Linked DNA regions of Homo sapiens. The protein of the gene in region 1 purifies or fractionates together with the protein of each later gene. This does not show direct contact. Each region holds a gene or a part of one and is shown on either strand. Other genes may lie near its edges.

What was found.
Region 2: the proteins of SFXN2 (region 1) and SPSB4 purify together in Homo sapiens (affinity purification with mass spectrometry; 2 studies listed by BioGRID and IntAct, with this or other methods). This does not show direct contact.

The regions. Positions count from the first base shown.
Region 1 is NC_000010.11:102,724,452-102,731,721, forward strand, and holds part of SFXN2 (sideroflexin-2), read left to right. Parts: intron 1-484; exon of another isoform or gene 485-516; coding exon of another isoform or gene 517-545; intron 546-634; exon of another isoform or gene 635-856; intron 857-2,160; coding exon of another isoform or gene 2,161-2,185; coding exon 2,186-2,346; intron 2,347-2,535; coding exon 2,536-2,706; intron 2,707-3,223; exon of another isoform or gene 3,224-3,340; intron 3,341-3,979; coding exon 3,980-4,078; intron 4,079-4,867; coding exon 4,868-4,943; intron 4,944-5,271; coding exon 5,272-5,357; intron 5,358-7,270. UniProt on the Homo sapiens protein: Mitochondrial amino-acid transporter that mediates transport of serine into mitochondria. Involved in mitochondrial iron homeostasis by regulating heme biosynthesis.
Region 2 is NC_000003.12:141,054,120-141,061,389, forward strand, and holds part of SPSB4 (SPRY domain-containing SOCS box protein 4), read left to right. Parts: intron 1-7,270. UniProt on the Homo sapiens protein: Substrate recognition component of a SCF-like ECS (Elongin BC-CUL2/5-SOCS-box protein) E3 ubiquitin-protein ligase complex which mediates the ubiquitination and subsequent proteasomal degradation of target proteins.

The DNA.
Region 1 (7,270 bases):
CCAGCACTTTGGGAGGCCGAGGTGGGCGGATCACGAGGTCAGGAGATCGAGACCATCCTGGCTAACATGGTGAAACCCCATCTCTACTAAAAATACAAAAAATAGCTGGGCATGGTGGTGCACGCCTGTAGTCTCAGCTACTTGGGAGGCTGAGGCAGGAGAACCACTTGAACACGGGAGGCAGAGGTTGAAGTGAGCCGAGATCGTGCCATTGTACTCCAGCCTGGTGGCAGAGCAAGACTCCGTCTCAAAAAAAAAAAGATTTTCCATCACTGCTTATGTTATTTGTCTGTTCTTGTCTGTTGTCCACTTTTCCCTTCAGAGTCCTTAGAATATTAACCATCGTTGTAATTAATTAATTAATTAATTTTAACCATAGTTATTTAAAATTCCTGGTCTGATAATTCTAAAATCTCATATCTAAATCTGATTCTGATACTTGGCCTGTTTCTTCAAACTGCGTTTTTTTTTTTTTTCTTTTTAGTATGCCTTGTAATTTTTCACTGAAAGCTGGACATGATGTACCCTGTGAGAGGAACTGAGGGGTGAGGTTTTGTTTATCTAGGCTATGTTTACTGTTTGCTGTAGCTATAGGTATAAAAGGCTAAATTTTCTTCTGGTGTCCTTGTTCTTATCTCCCTTGCTGTCTATGGGTCTCTAGAGACTTCTTAAATAGGGCCTAAGACTTGTTACTCTTTTTGTTATAATCCTTGTAATGATACAGGAGCCCTGCTGGTGCAGTGGTGAGGTGAGGGAGTGGAGGATCTACAGTCCTGTGATGAGGTCTCAGTCTTCTGGGGAGCCTGTGCCCCTGAACCTTCACAAGAGCTTCTCAGCCTCCCCTTGTCCTCTTTAGGTGAGGCAGGAAGGCAAGAGGTGGCTGGAGTTCTCTTTCCCCAAGTCACTTAAGTTCTGGTACAACCCAAGATGGTTAGGCTCTGGTAAAATAGTTTCCCTCAAGGGTAGACCTTGTTGAGAAGAATAAAAGGGCTGGGCATGATAGTGCATGCCTGTAGTCCCAGCTACTTGGGAGGCTGAGGTTGGAGGATTGCTTGAGCCCAGGAGTTCGAGGTTGCAGTGAGCTATAATCATGCCTGTCAATTACCATTCACTCCAGCCTGGATAAAATAATGAGACTCTGTCTCTAAATAATAAAACAGGCCAGATGCGGCAGCTCACACCTGTAATCCCAGCACTTTGGGAGGCCGAGGCAGAAGGATTGCTTGAACCTAGGAGTTTGAAACCAGCCTGGGCAACATAGCGAGGTGCCATCTCTACAAAAAAATACAAAAATTAGCCAGGGTGGTGGTATGTGCCTGTAGTCCCAGTTACTCAGGAGGCTGACCTGGGAGGTAATAGTTGCATTGAACCATGATCACACCACTGCATCCCAGCCTGGGTGAGAGAATGAGACCCTGTCTCAAAAAAAAAGTAAAATTAAATAAAAAAAAGAAGTATAAAGGGCTTTGGGTGTTTTTTTGTTTGTTTGTTTTGTTTTGTTTTTCCCCCCAAGATGGAGTCTTGCTCTGTCACCCAGGCTCAGGCTGGAGTGCAGTGGTGTGATCTCAGCTCACTGCAACCTCTGCCTCCTGGGTTCAAGCAATTTTTCTGCCTCAGCCTCCTGAGTAGCTGGGATTACAGGTGCCTGGCACTGCGCCCGGCTCATTTTTGTATTTTTAGTAGAGATGGGGTTTCACCATGTTGGCCAGGCTGGTCTCAAACTCCTGACCTCATGATCCCCCTGCCTCGGCCTCCCAAAGTACTGGGATTACAGGCATGAGCCACTGCACCCAGCTGGCTGTTTTTCAAAATGGCTACTTTTCCCATCTCCCCTGCCAGAAACACCTGGGGGTATTATACTATTTAATGGGTGGGCTTTTGTTCCCAGAGCTCTCCAAGCACAGGCACTGTATTGTCCCCTTTTCCAGTCCCTCCTGCTGTATGGTCAAGCACAGAGCTGGCCACCAGCAGGCCCTCAGGAAACACATGTTGGTGCCCAGTTGCTCAATCTGATGACCATTCACTTGGGCCCTCCCAAGCTGAGTCAGACGATGCCCAGTAGCTGGTGAGAGCAGGCAGTCTGCAACAGTGGGACGTGCTCAGGTCCTCTGTGGTGGGCTTTGATTTAGGGGACAGTCATCTTCTTCCTTTGTCCCTTAGGTCCACAGTTTTATGTGTGAGCAAGATGGAGGCTGACCTGTCTGGCTTTAACATCGATGCCCCCCGTTGGGACCAGCGCACCTTCCTGGGGAGAGTGAAGCACTTCCTAAACATCACGGACCCCCGCACTGTCTTTGTATCTGAGCGGGAGCTGGACTGGGCCAAGGTGATGGTGGAGAAGAGCAGGTGAGGGGTCGGGGAAGGGGCTGGAAGTAGTAGGGTAACATTGATGGGGTCCTCTTGGGAGGAGGTGGAAACCGAAGGTGAAGGAATAGGCAGAAATCTCAGGGCTGGGGGCTGGAAGAAGTGAGAGTGGGGAGACTGGGAGACATTGATCAGGCAGGATGGTGACTGCCTGCTGTCCTTGGGTGGCAGGATGGGGGTTGTGCCCCCAGGCACCCAAGTGGAGCAGCTGCTGTATGCCAAGAAGCTGTATGACTCGGCCTTCCACCCCGACACTGGGGAGAAGATGAATGTCATCGGGCGCATGTCTTTCCAGCTTCCTGGCGGCATGATCATCACGGGCTTCATGCTCCAGTTCTACAGGTGGGACCTGGGGGCAGGGCCGTGGGAGGTACAGCTGCCTGGATCTGCTGGTCAGGGAGCCATACTATGATAATAATAATAGTTCTCTTGATTGGTCACTTACCAGATACCAGGCACTATGCTACATTCTTTGCTCGTATTGCTTCATTTAACCCTCGCAACAACCCTACACTATAGGTACTATTATTTCCATTTTATAGATGAAGAACTAGAGTTCTAGAGAAGCTGAAGAACTTGTCCAGGTTTAAACAGGCAGGAAATATGGGTGCCTGGATTTTAACTGAGGCAGTCCTGTGTAGAACCCTCAACAAATAAGCTACCCCAATTCCCTCTTTAAAAAGTACTTATTCCACAATGATTTTAATTATGTAACACCCAAACAAAACAATAGGAAGTCCCTTTCTTGGCTTGGTTGGGGAGAGAATAGACTGCCTCTGTAGCTGCTGGACATGTGACTCTTCTTCCTACCTCTTCCTTCCTCCCCTGCGTCCCCCACCCCACGCATTGATTGGTTCAGCTATTGAGCTGGGCTTTGGGCCGGGTGTTGGGAATGTGAAGGCTTCAGTAACCTCCCGTCAAGGAGCTCCCAGTTTTGTTGAGGAGACCAAGAAGTAAACAGTTACAGTACAGCTTGGTAAGTGGTAGGTTGGAGGAAGAACATGGGGTTGTGGGAGCAGGAGCATGGAGTGACTTACTCTGTCTCAGGAGGGGCAGGGAAAGGGTCGGGAAGGTTCCATGGAGGAAGTGATCCCTCTCAACAGGGCAGGGTTGGCCATGTATGGAAGGAGGAGGGGGAGATATTTGAGGCAGAGGGGCCAGCCTGCGCAGAAGCCCAGGTGCATAAAACAGTATGGGAACAAGCTGGGCACGGTGGCTCATGTCTGTAATCCCAGCACTTTGGGAAGCCAAGGCGGGTGGATTACTTGAGGTCAAGAGTTCAAGACCAGCCTGACCAATATGGTGAAACCCCGTCTCTACTAAAAATACAAAAATTAGCCAGGCGTGGTGGTGTGTGCCTGTAGTCCCAGCCACTTGGGAGGCTGAGACAGGAGAATTGCTTGAACCTGGGAGGCGGAGGTTGCAGTGAGCTGAGATCGTACCACTGCACTCCAGCCTGGGTGACAGAGTGAGACTCCGTCTCAAAAAAATAAAAATAAAAAACTAGTATGGGAACAGTGTGGGGACCTGCAGATCATGTGCTTTGACTGGCATACCCTCAGGACTCCCTGCCATCTGACTTCTCTCTGCCTCTCCTGGCCTTCCTCACTGGTAGGACGATGCCGGCGGTGATCTTCTGGCAGTGGGTGAACCAGTCCTTCAATGCCTTAGTCAACTACACCAACAGGAATGCGGCTTCCCCCACATCAGTCAGGTAGGAGACCTGAACCCCAGGCTGTCCTCGTGTCTCCCCACGAACAGCTTTTCTAAAGGGTTCTGGGCTGTCAGTCCTTCCTGGGTAGCACCTGCACTGAGCAGGTGACCAAGTCACCCTTTCCCAGGGTTTGGAAATATTTTCTCAAGCTGAGTAGGGGTGGATCTTCTTCCTAGACCAATTCCAAATGTGTTTATTCATTCATTCTCTAAATATTTCTTCTTGAGTGTGTCTTATGTGCTGGGGATGTGCATGGTTCTAGATGCTGGGATACATTGTTAAGACATGTGGTTGGGCCAGGCACGGTGGTTCTCACCTGTAATCCTAGCGCTTTGGGAGGCTGAGGCAGGCAGATTGCCTAAGATCAGTCTCAAAACAAACAAAAAAAACCACCCAGAAAACCAGGGTTGCAAGGCAGAGAACAGCAGAGCGGTGTCTGTGTAGTTAGGCCACTTAGAGCAGTCCCATCTGTGAAGACGACATTTCAACTGTCCTGAAGGATGAGGGATGAATGACCCAAGAGCCCAGGGAACACCTCCCCGCATAGGGAGCAGCCGTGTGCAGAGGCTCCGAGGCAGGGAGGAACTTGGCATGTTCACAGTACTGAAAGAAGACCAAGGGGGCTGGAGCACTGTGAGTGAGGGGGAGAGGGTCACAAGATAAGGCTGGGGACAGATCCTGTGCGGTTTTCACGCACGAAGCCTCGCCAGCCGACTTTCTCCCTGAAGCCCGTGGTTTGGCCCTCAGCCGGCAGGGGCCCCACTCCCAAGCATCTCTCTCCTCCCCCAGGCAGATGGCCCTTTCCTACTTCACAGCCACAACCACTGCTGTGGCCACGGCTGTGGGCATGAACATGTTGACAAAGGTATGGTCTGGGGCCGCTGCAGCATGGTGGCCACGCGGGGGCAGCAGAGTCCTAGGGAAAACGTCCTTCCCCCAGGGACAGTTCCCCAGGCTGGGTGAGTTGGGAATGGCCAGAGCCCGGCTGGCCAAGTGATGAGAAATACACCAGGGCCGTCCCCAGGTTGGTTCTTCTTGGGCCTTTGAGGGAGTTTGGGGTTCCCAGACTGGGTGTCTGGATGTGTGGCGGTAGCAAGGCCTAGTTTTCTTTTTTGTATTCTAGTCGTTCAGCCCCCTCCCCTCCCATCTTCCAGCGCTTCTGAACAACTCCTACTGTTCTCTTCCCCCAACAGAAAGCGCCGCCCTTGGTGGGCCGCTGGGTGCCCTTTGCCGCTGTGGCTGCGGCTAACTGTGTCAATATCCCCATGATGCGACAGCAGTGAGTAAAGGCCCCTTTTTCTCCCTACAAACCACAAGATTAGCAGAAAAGGGGCAAGAAACCAAAGCAGTGGGTGGCTTCTGGGGACTGCGGTGGGCATGGGGAGGGCTGCTGGGCTGAGCCTCTGAAGGGCCCTGGGATTGGCAGCTCCCATGGTGATGGCCCCGGGAGTGGTGGGTGACTTTGGGTTAGGCCGTGTGTTGAGTCCCGTGGGAGTCCTCTCCTGGGTGATGTGGGATGGGAAAGACAGGGTGGACCTGTGGAGTTTTACACTGGATCATGTCCTTTTGGACCTGTGTTAAAATTGTGAACTCCTCCTACTTCCCAAGCCCTGGGGATGGCATACAGAATGAAATGTAGCAGGCTGAGGTGTCTAAAGATAGCATAGAACCCAGAAGCTTTGAAAGAAGCCAGAGGAGTAGACAGAAGTTTTCCAGGCACCCAACTCTAAGCTTTTCAGGAGAAAAGGTAAAGGAGAAACTCATTGTGTCTCACAGTTCTTATTTCTTGACTAGAGAAATCTCTGTTATGAGGTTTTAATGATGTAATATATGTAAAGCACTCAAAATAGCACCTGGAACATAAGAGATGCTACATAAGTGTTCACTGTTATTTCTACCATTGTCATCATCATCAATATCTACAAGCCACATTTTCTTGGGACTACCAACAAATGGAAAATGTTCACACTAGTCTTTGTAGAGGAAGCACTACCAGAATAGTTGTGCACACATGCTGCTCCATTCATCTTTCCTTCCCCATCCAGTGGCCCTTTCCTAACAGGAGAATGAGTCCCTGCCACCTACCGGGGCTTGAGTTGAGTGCTGTCAAGAACTGGCCTGAGAAGAACAGCTGGGGTGGGCTGGGTGCGGTGGCTCACGCCTGTAATCCCAGCACTTTGGGATGCTGAGGCAGGAGGATCACCTGAGGCCAGGAGTTTGAGACCAGCCTGGCCAACATGGCAAAACCCCATCTCTACTAAAAATACAAAAATTAGGGCCAGGCGTGGTAGCTCACGCCTGTAATCCCAGCACTTTGGGAGGCTGAGGTGGGCGGATCACGAGGTCAGGAGATCGAGACCATCCTGGCTAACACGGTGAAACCCCGTCTCTACTAAAAAATACAAAAAATTAGCCAGGTATGGTGGCGGGTGCCTGTAGTCCCGGCAACTTGGGAGGCTGAGGCAGGAGAATGTTGTGAACCCGGGAGGCGGAGCTTGTAGTGAGCCAAGATCGCACCACTGCACTCCAGCCTGGGTGACAGAGTGAGACTCCATCACAAAAAAAAAACCAAAAAACAAAAACAAAAATTAGCCGGGCATGGTGGCGCATGCCTGTAATTCTAGCTACTGGGGAGGTTGAGGCAGGAGAATCGCTTGAACCCAGGAGATGGAGGTTGCAGTGAGCCAAGATCATGCCACTACACTCCAGCCTGGGTGACAGAGTGCGATTGTCTCAAAAAAAAAAAAAAAAAAAAAAGGAATAGCTAGAGTAGCTACTGTTTGTGGAGTGATCACACTGTGTGTCAGGTGCTGGACCAAGTATTTCATAGCCATTATCTCATTTAATCCTTACCAGGTCCTGTAAAGTGGGTGCCAGGATGATCCCCATTTTGCAGATAAGCAAAACTGAGGCTTTGGGAGGGTTAAAGACTGTGCTCAAGGTCACACACATCCCCTGCAGTTTCAGGACTCAACCCAGACAGTCCGGGCCCAGGGCCACCGCTCTCAGCCACTGCCCTAGATCACTCCTAAGATACTGCTTATTGGAGTGCAGAAGGAAGGTCAAAGGCCCAGGCTACAGGAGGTGGCTTCCTGGAGCTTAAGTGGCCTGGCCTTGGTCCCCTGGCATGTCATGTGGCTGGCAGGCTTCCATCACCCCTTTCCCAAGTCCATTAACTCCTGTCTGTGTTTA
Region 2 (7,270 bases), on another chromosome or scaffold:
TGCAGAATTCCTTGCCCTTTTGGGGAAAGACCTAGTACAACTCACCATACAGGAGTTACTTAATTTCCCCTGAGCTGCCCGACCTGTTGTCACACATCCATGCTCTAGAAAGGTTTTTTCTCTGTTGATACAGGAGTGAAGGGTCTTGGGCATGAAAATCAGGGGAGTGGCAGGCCGTAGATGGAGGTCACCAGAAGTCTCTGCCTATATATGTACTATATAAGTACATAGTATGTACTCTTGATTTATGTGAACATGACCATCTGTGGTAAGAAAAGATCAACTATAAAAAATTTTTAAACCAGCAACACGTTTTTAATAAAACATGGTTCCTACATAAGCCAACTAATTTATTTGCTGCTGATCAGTTCAAGAAATAGGGATTTGTTTTGAGGCTATAGGAAAAACAGTTGTGGGTGGTGTGCCCTTTGGGAAAGAGGTGGTATACCTCAAACCAGTTATCATGAACTTTGTGTGGAACTTTAGAAGAACTTTCCTAAGCAGTGTTGATTGCATGTGATTTTTGCTTCACACATTGAGTTCAGAACTTACTCCATTTAAAATGTATACGTGTGGTGGTTCATGCCCGTAATCCCAGCACTTTGGGAGGCCGAGGCGGGGGGATCGCAAGGTCAGGAGATCGAGACTATCCTGGCTAACACAGTGAAACCCCGTCTCTACTAAAAATACAAAAAATTAGCCCGGCGTGGCGGCTTGCGCCTGTAGTCCCAGCTGCTGGGGAGGCTGAGGCAGGAGAATGGCATGAACCTGGGACGCAGAGCTTGCAGTGAGCCGAGATGGCACCACTGCACTCCAGCCTGGGCAACAGAGCGAGACTCCGTCTCAAAAAAAAAAAAAAAATGCAAACCATGCAGGAGGTATAGAGTGGCTAGTCCTTCTTCAGTCTGACAAGCACGTCTTAATGCAGCCAGAGGTAACAGGTACAAGGCTGTGTACGAGTATTGGAGATAAAGGCTGGTTGGGCACTGGCTCCATTAAGAAATGCAGATGTGGTGCAAGAGATAGCAGCAGGAATCAACAGCTAAGATGAAGACAAAGTGGGTTGGAGGGCAGAGGGTGCAGTGGGACGTAGGCAAGAGGACATAATGGGGCGGAGGGAAGAGGATGTAGTGGGCTGAGGGGCTGCCACGGAGGGGTGCCCAGTTCTGCTTCTGCTAGAAGGGGCAGGGGAGTGAGAGAATGTCAGCCAGGTCAGAGAAGATGGGAAGAGTCCCAGGATGTGCTGACGAGGAGAGTCTGGCATGACTGGTCTGAGGTGGGCCGTGATGACAGACAGTGTGGAAGAAATAAGAGCAGCCTGGAGGGCCCCTGGGTGCCAAGCAAAGAGGTGCAGCTTCTCTCTGGAGAAGCTGCCTGGAGGGTTGAATGAAGAGATTGGTGGGTGTCTTGGTCCAACTTACCTGTTGGCAGCATGGAGAGTGGGTTGGCGGGCAAACAGTGGAGTCAGGGAAGCCTGCTAAGAGACCAGTGGAGTAATCCAGGCAAGTTCTGAACTAGGGGAAAGCTGACGGGGTTGAGTGGTGGGGACCAAGAGACGGGATCCATGGCAGGAACAGTGACATGCAGAGGAACCTGGCATGTGAGAGAGGGAAGAGGCCAGGCTCAGCCTAGGACCTGCAGATTCCGAGGTGCACATGGACCACAGATGTCCCGCAGGGCTGAGAGTGTGGGTGTGCCCATGGTAGGAGGCTTATGATGGAAAGAGGTCAGCTGGCCTTACAAGGTCATTTGAAACAACACCCAGGCAGGGCTGACCAGGGGCTTCTAGTAGGTAGGTCTTGTGCTGAGGAGAGAAGGCAGCACTGGAGACCCGGCTTGAGAGTGTCTGCACGGGGCTGGAGATGCAGGTCATAAGAGAAGATGCATGGAGAGAGAGAGTGAAAAGCGGAAACTGAAGTTGAAGCAATGGACTTGGGGGTGCCCCATTGATGGGGTAGGCAGGAAGACATTGGAGCCAGGAGGAGGCAGGAAAGCTGCTGTGGTAAGCTCTACACTTCAATGTGCTGGTATGTGTGGTGGGAGACGCTGGAGCAGTGCCAAAGTCATCCATCTGACCTTTAATGTTGTGAAATGTCATGTATGGTGAACTGGAGCTCTGCTTTCTCCAGAAGTGAGTGGGCCTTGGCCCGGTTTACTGGCCACAGAGACATTCTACCTGTTATCTACCTTCAGGAGACATCTACCTGTTATCTGCATTCTATGAAATGTGCAAGTTGTACAGATTCCTGGGGCTGGAGCAGCTCCCTCCCCGATCCTGCTCCCTTTCTCCTCTCTTCCTCTCATCCTCTCTCCTTTCCTCCTTAGTATCTCAAAAATGCCCCCAGAGATACTGTAGGCTTAACAGAGGGATCTTCAGAAATCCCAGCAGGTCCCTATTATGACCTGGCTCAAGCCAGAGGCATGAATAGTTCTGCTTTTCTTTTAGGCATTCTGTTTCCAGACAACCAGTTATACCAAGTGGAGAAGGTTCATCTTGGGAGGTAAATGAGGGATTGGACGCAAACCTTATCATGTTTTCATCATCGTTTTCCCCAGAGGGCTTCATTAAATGGTACCCTTCCCATCTTCTCCCTTCATGCTTTGACCCAGCCCAGACATGCTGGGCCTCAGGGAATCCAGCTGCCCTGCAAACAACCTCCACATGTGCCTGGGGCAGGCCTCTGGGCTCAGGGGCAGCTGTGGTGACCGGGCTGGCCCGGACTGCACGTGGCCTTGCTGTCTCAGTGGTATGTCTCTTTCAAATGACCTTGCAGAGCTTGCTGCCCTGGTCACAGCCTAGCAAACCTCCTTCATCCCATTTGCTGCTCTCCTTGCTGGCTGACAGCCCAGCTTGCACCTTGGGGGCCCCTGGCTCAGTCACGCGTGGGAGGATTCCCATGGAAACCCCAGGAGGAGGAGAGGCTCAGGGAAGCCTCATTGATTCTCGCTCCAGGAAAACAGGCGTGAGATGATTCCACCTGGAACTGGACAGATGGCTCTCTTTGTGAGCTCTTGGGGAAGAAAGGGCTTGCCCAGCCAGTTGTAGCCTGAGCTCCATGTGTGTATAGCAGGGAAAAGCTAATGAATGCCTATGAACAAAACCTTGGGGGTTCTTTAGTTCATTCATTGTTGGTGGGTTCATTCTGAATGAGCATCTTTAATAAAACAGCCTCCCTACTTAATATTTGCACAAGAAAAATCTTAAAAACATTCCAGTTAAACTAAGGTCAGGCACCTATCATTGGTACCTTTGCACAGAGTCAAAAATTGAAAAATAAAGACATGAAATAAATAGTCTGAGCTCACAGTGCTCTGCATTCCCAGTTCATTCTTAAGTGTTGGTTCTTTCTAAGGCAGTGTATTGCTTTTCTTCATTTGTTCGTGCTCGTGCATTCCATAGACGTTCACCCACCACTTTCTCTAAGCCAGGTCCATGGGGACTCTGATGAGGGACACCCGGCCCCTGCTCCCAAGTTGCCCCAGTCCGATGGGAGGGAGGCAGCCAAAGAGACATCATGTCCCCTTGTGATAAGAGCTGTGGTGGGCACAAGTACAAGGGCTCTGAGAGCACAGGGGGCTGGGGAGCTCCCCAGAGGCACTAATATCTAATATCCTGAAAGCCTCAGAGAACCTGTCGAGGATTTTGAGCAGGAGCGTGATTAGATCAACTGTGTACTTTTACAAGTGCAGTAGTATATATTTGAAAGTAATATGCAGTCTATAAAGGAATTCCAGTGGTATCTAACTGGATTTCTTTTTACAGTCTTTGTCATTATTCAGATCTCTCGTGGAGTCTGACCCCTTTGGTGTAGGCTGTCTCCCTAAGGGAAAGTGGTTGAGTCTTATGCTTTTCAGCAGCCTGAGATCCCCAGGGCAGGCATCATTACTGCTGGCTAGATGAAAGAAGGAGACTTGCCCCCACCTCTGGCTCCAGCAAGTCCAAAGCCAGAGGCCACACAGAGAGAAGGGCATTTCACGCAGTCACTACCAATCCCCACAGCAGTCATGTCTTCTTGCAGACCCCGTGCCTATTGAGCTCAGCTAGACAGGCCTCTGTGGCTGTGATTTTGGGTCCCAGGCCTCTGAAGACTGTGCATCATATTTTTCAAACTAATGAGGTTCCTTAAACAGTGTGGCATTGCCACTTCATGTCTCCTCATTTCCCTGTCGGGTAGGAACATCTGCTAGGGTCCTGGGAAAGGCAATTAGCAAATTAGAGTTTTTGTTTTCTTGCTCAGCCATGATTGAAGCCCCAGAGCAGATCCTTCTGGATAATGTCATTAAGCATCCCCATCCAAGCATGACGTAGGAAATTAAGTTTGGTTTTGGGGAAAAGTGACGGAGGCATCCTTTGGCGTTCTTCAGGATGCTGGCTGCTTACTGGGTTGAGAGATGATGGTATTCCTGTCAGGAAGATGGATCCTGTTGTATGTCCCATGTGCCTGGCCCAGTGCTGCATGCTGTAGTGGAGATGAGGAGAGGAGAAATGTGCTAAGTGCCCACTCCCTCTGGCTGGAGAGAGAAGGCAGGGATGAGCCCGACTTGGCCACTGCTGTGTCCCTTGCTCTCAGCTGCACAGTGCCTGGCACTGTGTTCACTAAGCATTTTTTGAACGAATAAATGAGGGTTGGAAGCAGGGAAGGATGCAAAGCAGTAGCTAATAAAGGAGTAGACTGGATACAGCCAAGAGTCAGCTGCTCAGGAGTGAGAGTCCAACTATGATAGTGGCATTACTGGGCTTCATGTCCCCATATCCTGACTTTAGCCCTGGCCCTTTCTCTGCTTCATCCTCTGAAAAACAGCAGAGCATGAGCCCTCCCTGAAGCCCAGCACAACCTCTCCACAGTCCATATGTGTGTTCTGCCCCATGTTCAAAGTACCAGGCTTGTGTCTTGCATGGAGGGAGTAGTGCAGTGGCTGGGGGCACAGAAGTGCTGGTGAAAGTTTCCTGCCATCAGAGGAATGCCCTCAAGGTAGAAAAAAGCAGATCAGTAAGGCCTGAAAGATGTCCCCCTGGCTGGCTCAAGGGTGGACAGAGGTACAGGGCAGGCCCCAGGAGGCCTACTGGATCAGGGCAGGCTTCCTAGAGGAGGTGGAGCTCACCCTCATGGACTAATTATCTCTCAAAGGCTCCACCTCCAAATACTATCACACTGGGGCTTTGTGTTAGGCCATTTTTGCATTGCTATAAAGAAATACCTAAGACTGAGTAATTTATAATGAAAAGAAGTTTAGTTGGCTCACGGTTCTGCAGGCTTTACAGGAAGCACGGTGCTGGCATCTGCTTGGCTTCTAGAGAGGCCTCAGGAAGCTTACAGTCATGGCAGAAGGTGAAGGAGGAGAAGGCATGTCACATGGTGAAAACAAGAGCAAGAGGCGGGGGTGGGGAGGTGTCACACACTTTTAAATGAGCAGATATCTCTCCAGAACTCAGTCACTATCCCTAAGACAGCACCAAGCCATGACAGACTCACCCCCATGACCCAGACAGCTCCCACCAGGCCTCACCTCCAGCACTGAGGATTACAACTCAACATGAGATTTGAGCAGGGACAAATATCCAACCTATATTAGGCTTCAACATGTGAATTTGGGGAGGACACAATCAGTTCATAGCCAGGCACATTCAAGTGGTGAAATGGCAATGTTGGAACACATCCACAATTTAAAAGAGCACTCACCACTTACTGGAAGCCCTGTGATGTGCCAGACTTTACAGGTGTCTGCTCTGATACTTGCAAAAGCAGGTGAGGTTAGCACATAGTTAGCAGCACTTCCAACCAGTCTCAGAGAGATTAAGTTCTGGCCTAGGGTCCAACAGACAGGTGGGGATTCACATCTAGGTCTCCTGTCCTTCATTAGATTGCCCAGCTGCTAGTTTCCCTTAACGGCTTATCATTCATGGACATGAGCACTCTGCTGTGCGCCCTGTACTGGGGGAGCAGCAAAGGGGCTGTCTATTTACTTGCCCACCTTGTCACACCACAGTGTGAGCACTCTTCAGGATCTCTGCCTGCCTCTAGTAGGGACAGAGACTTTGAGACTATGATTGCAAAGGAGAGCACTGGGCCCTCAATGACCCAGTATGGGCCAAGCCAAGTACTAGTAAGAGGTCTTCCCTGGGGCTGCTGTTTGGCTGTTGCTTTCAAACATGTTTAAGTGTCTTTTCAGCAACAGCAACTCCACAGTTGGCATGGTTGTGTGCAAGGATAAAGCAGTTTCCCTTAGAAATTTTCTGTGTGGGCCACACAGAGCTGGTTACAGTCATTGCTGTGGAGAGGGCATTATTCTAAACAACATGGAGGAAGAAGTAAGAGCACAGGCTTGTCATATGGTAACTCTGGGGTTGATCCCAGTCCTGCCACTTCCTGGCTGTGTGACCCCAGGTTATGCAAGTTATGCAACCTCTCTGAGCCCGGGCTGCTATTGCAAAGAGTGCTGCGTATGTATGCAGTATGTATGCATGTGCTGTGTACATAGGTAGTTTTGTGCATTTGAGAACATATCTGAATAAATGCTGGAAGTAGAATTGCTAGGTCAAAGGGTCTGTATATTTGCAATTCTGAAAGATGGTGTTAATTTGCCATTTGCCGAGGCTAAACCAGTTTATATCCACTTTAGCAATGTATGAGTCTGTCTTCTGTTCCACACATTCTCCAAGCATGCGTTATCCATTTTTTTGACCTTTAATAAGCTGATAGACAAAAATGGCATTTCAATGGAGTTCTAACTCATTTCTTTTTCAGTATACATTGAGTATCTTTTCAAAGGAACCATTTGTTTTTGTGTAAACTGTTGATATCTTTTCATATTTTGTACTTGTATTCATTTGTAGGAGTTTGACATATATTTGTTGGTAATTTGTGTTGCAAATTTTTTCTTATGTTAAAACAAGTCTAACTTCTTTTACAAGTGCTTTCAGCTACACCGTTTTGTTATTTCCCATTTTCATTTCTTGTTTTACATATTTCTGTCTTCTCCCCCATTAAATGATTATATGGTTTATGTTTTATGTGTTTTTAAAAATTTAGTTACTTATGCATTTAAAGTATATTTAGTGATATGTGAAAATGCAAATTACATAATTTTTAGGTGAAATAATCTAAATAAAGGCCCATTATACCAATTTTTAAAAAGAAAATTCATTATAATTTATAGACCAAAAAAAAAGAGAGAATAAAGCAAAATTCCTCCAAAAGCTGACAATGTTTATATCTGGTTAATGAGATAGGAGAAAGAGGTGAATTCTAGTTTTTGTCCTTTTTTTGTA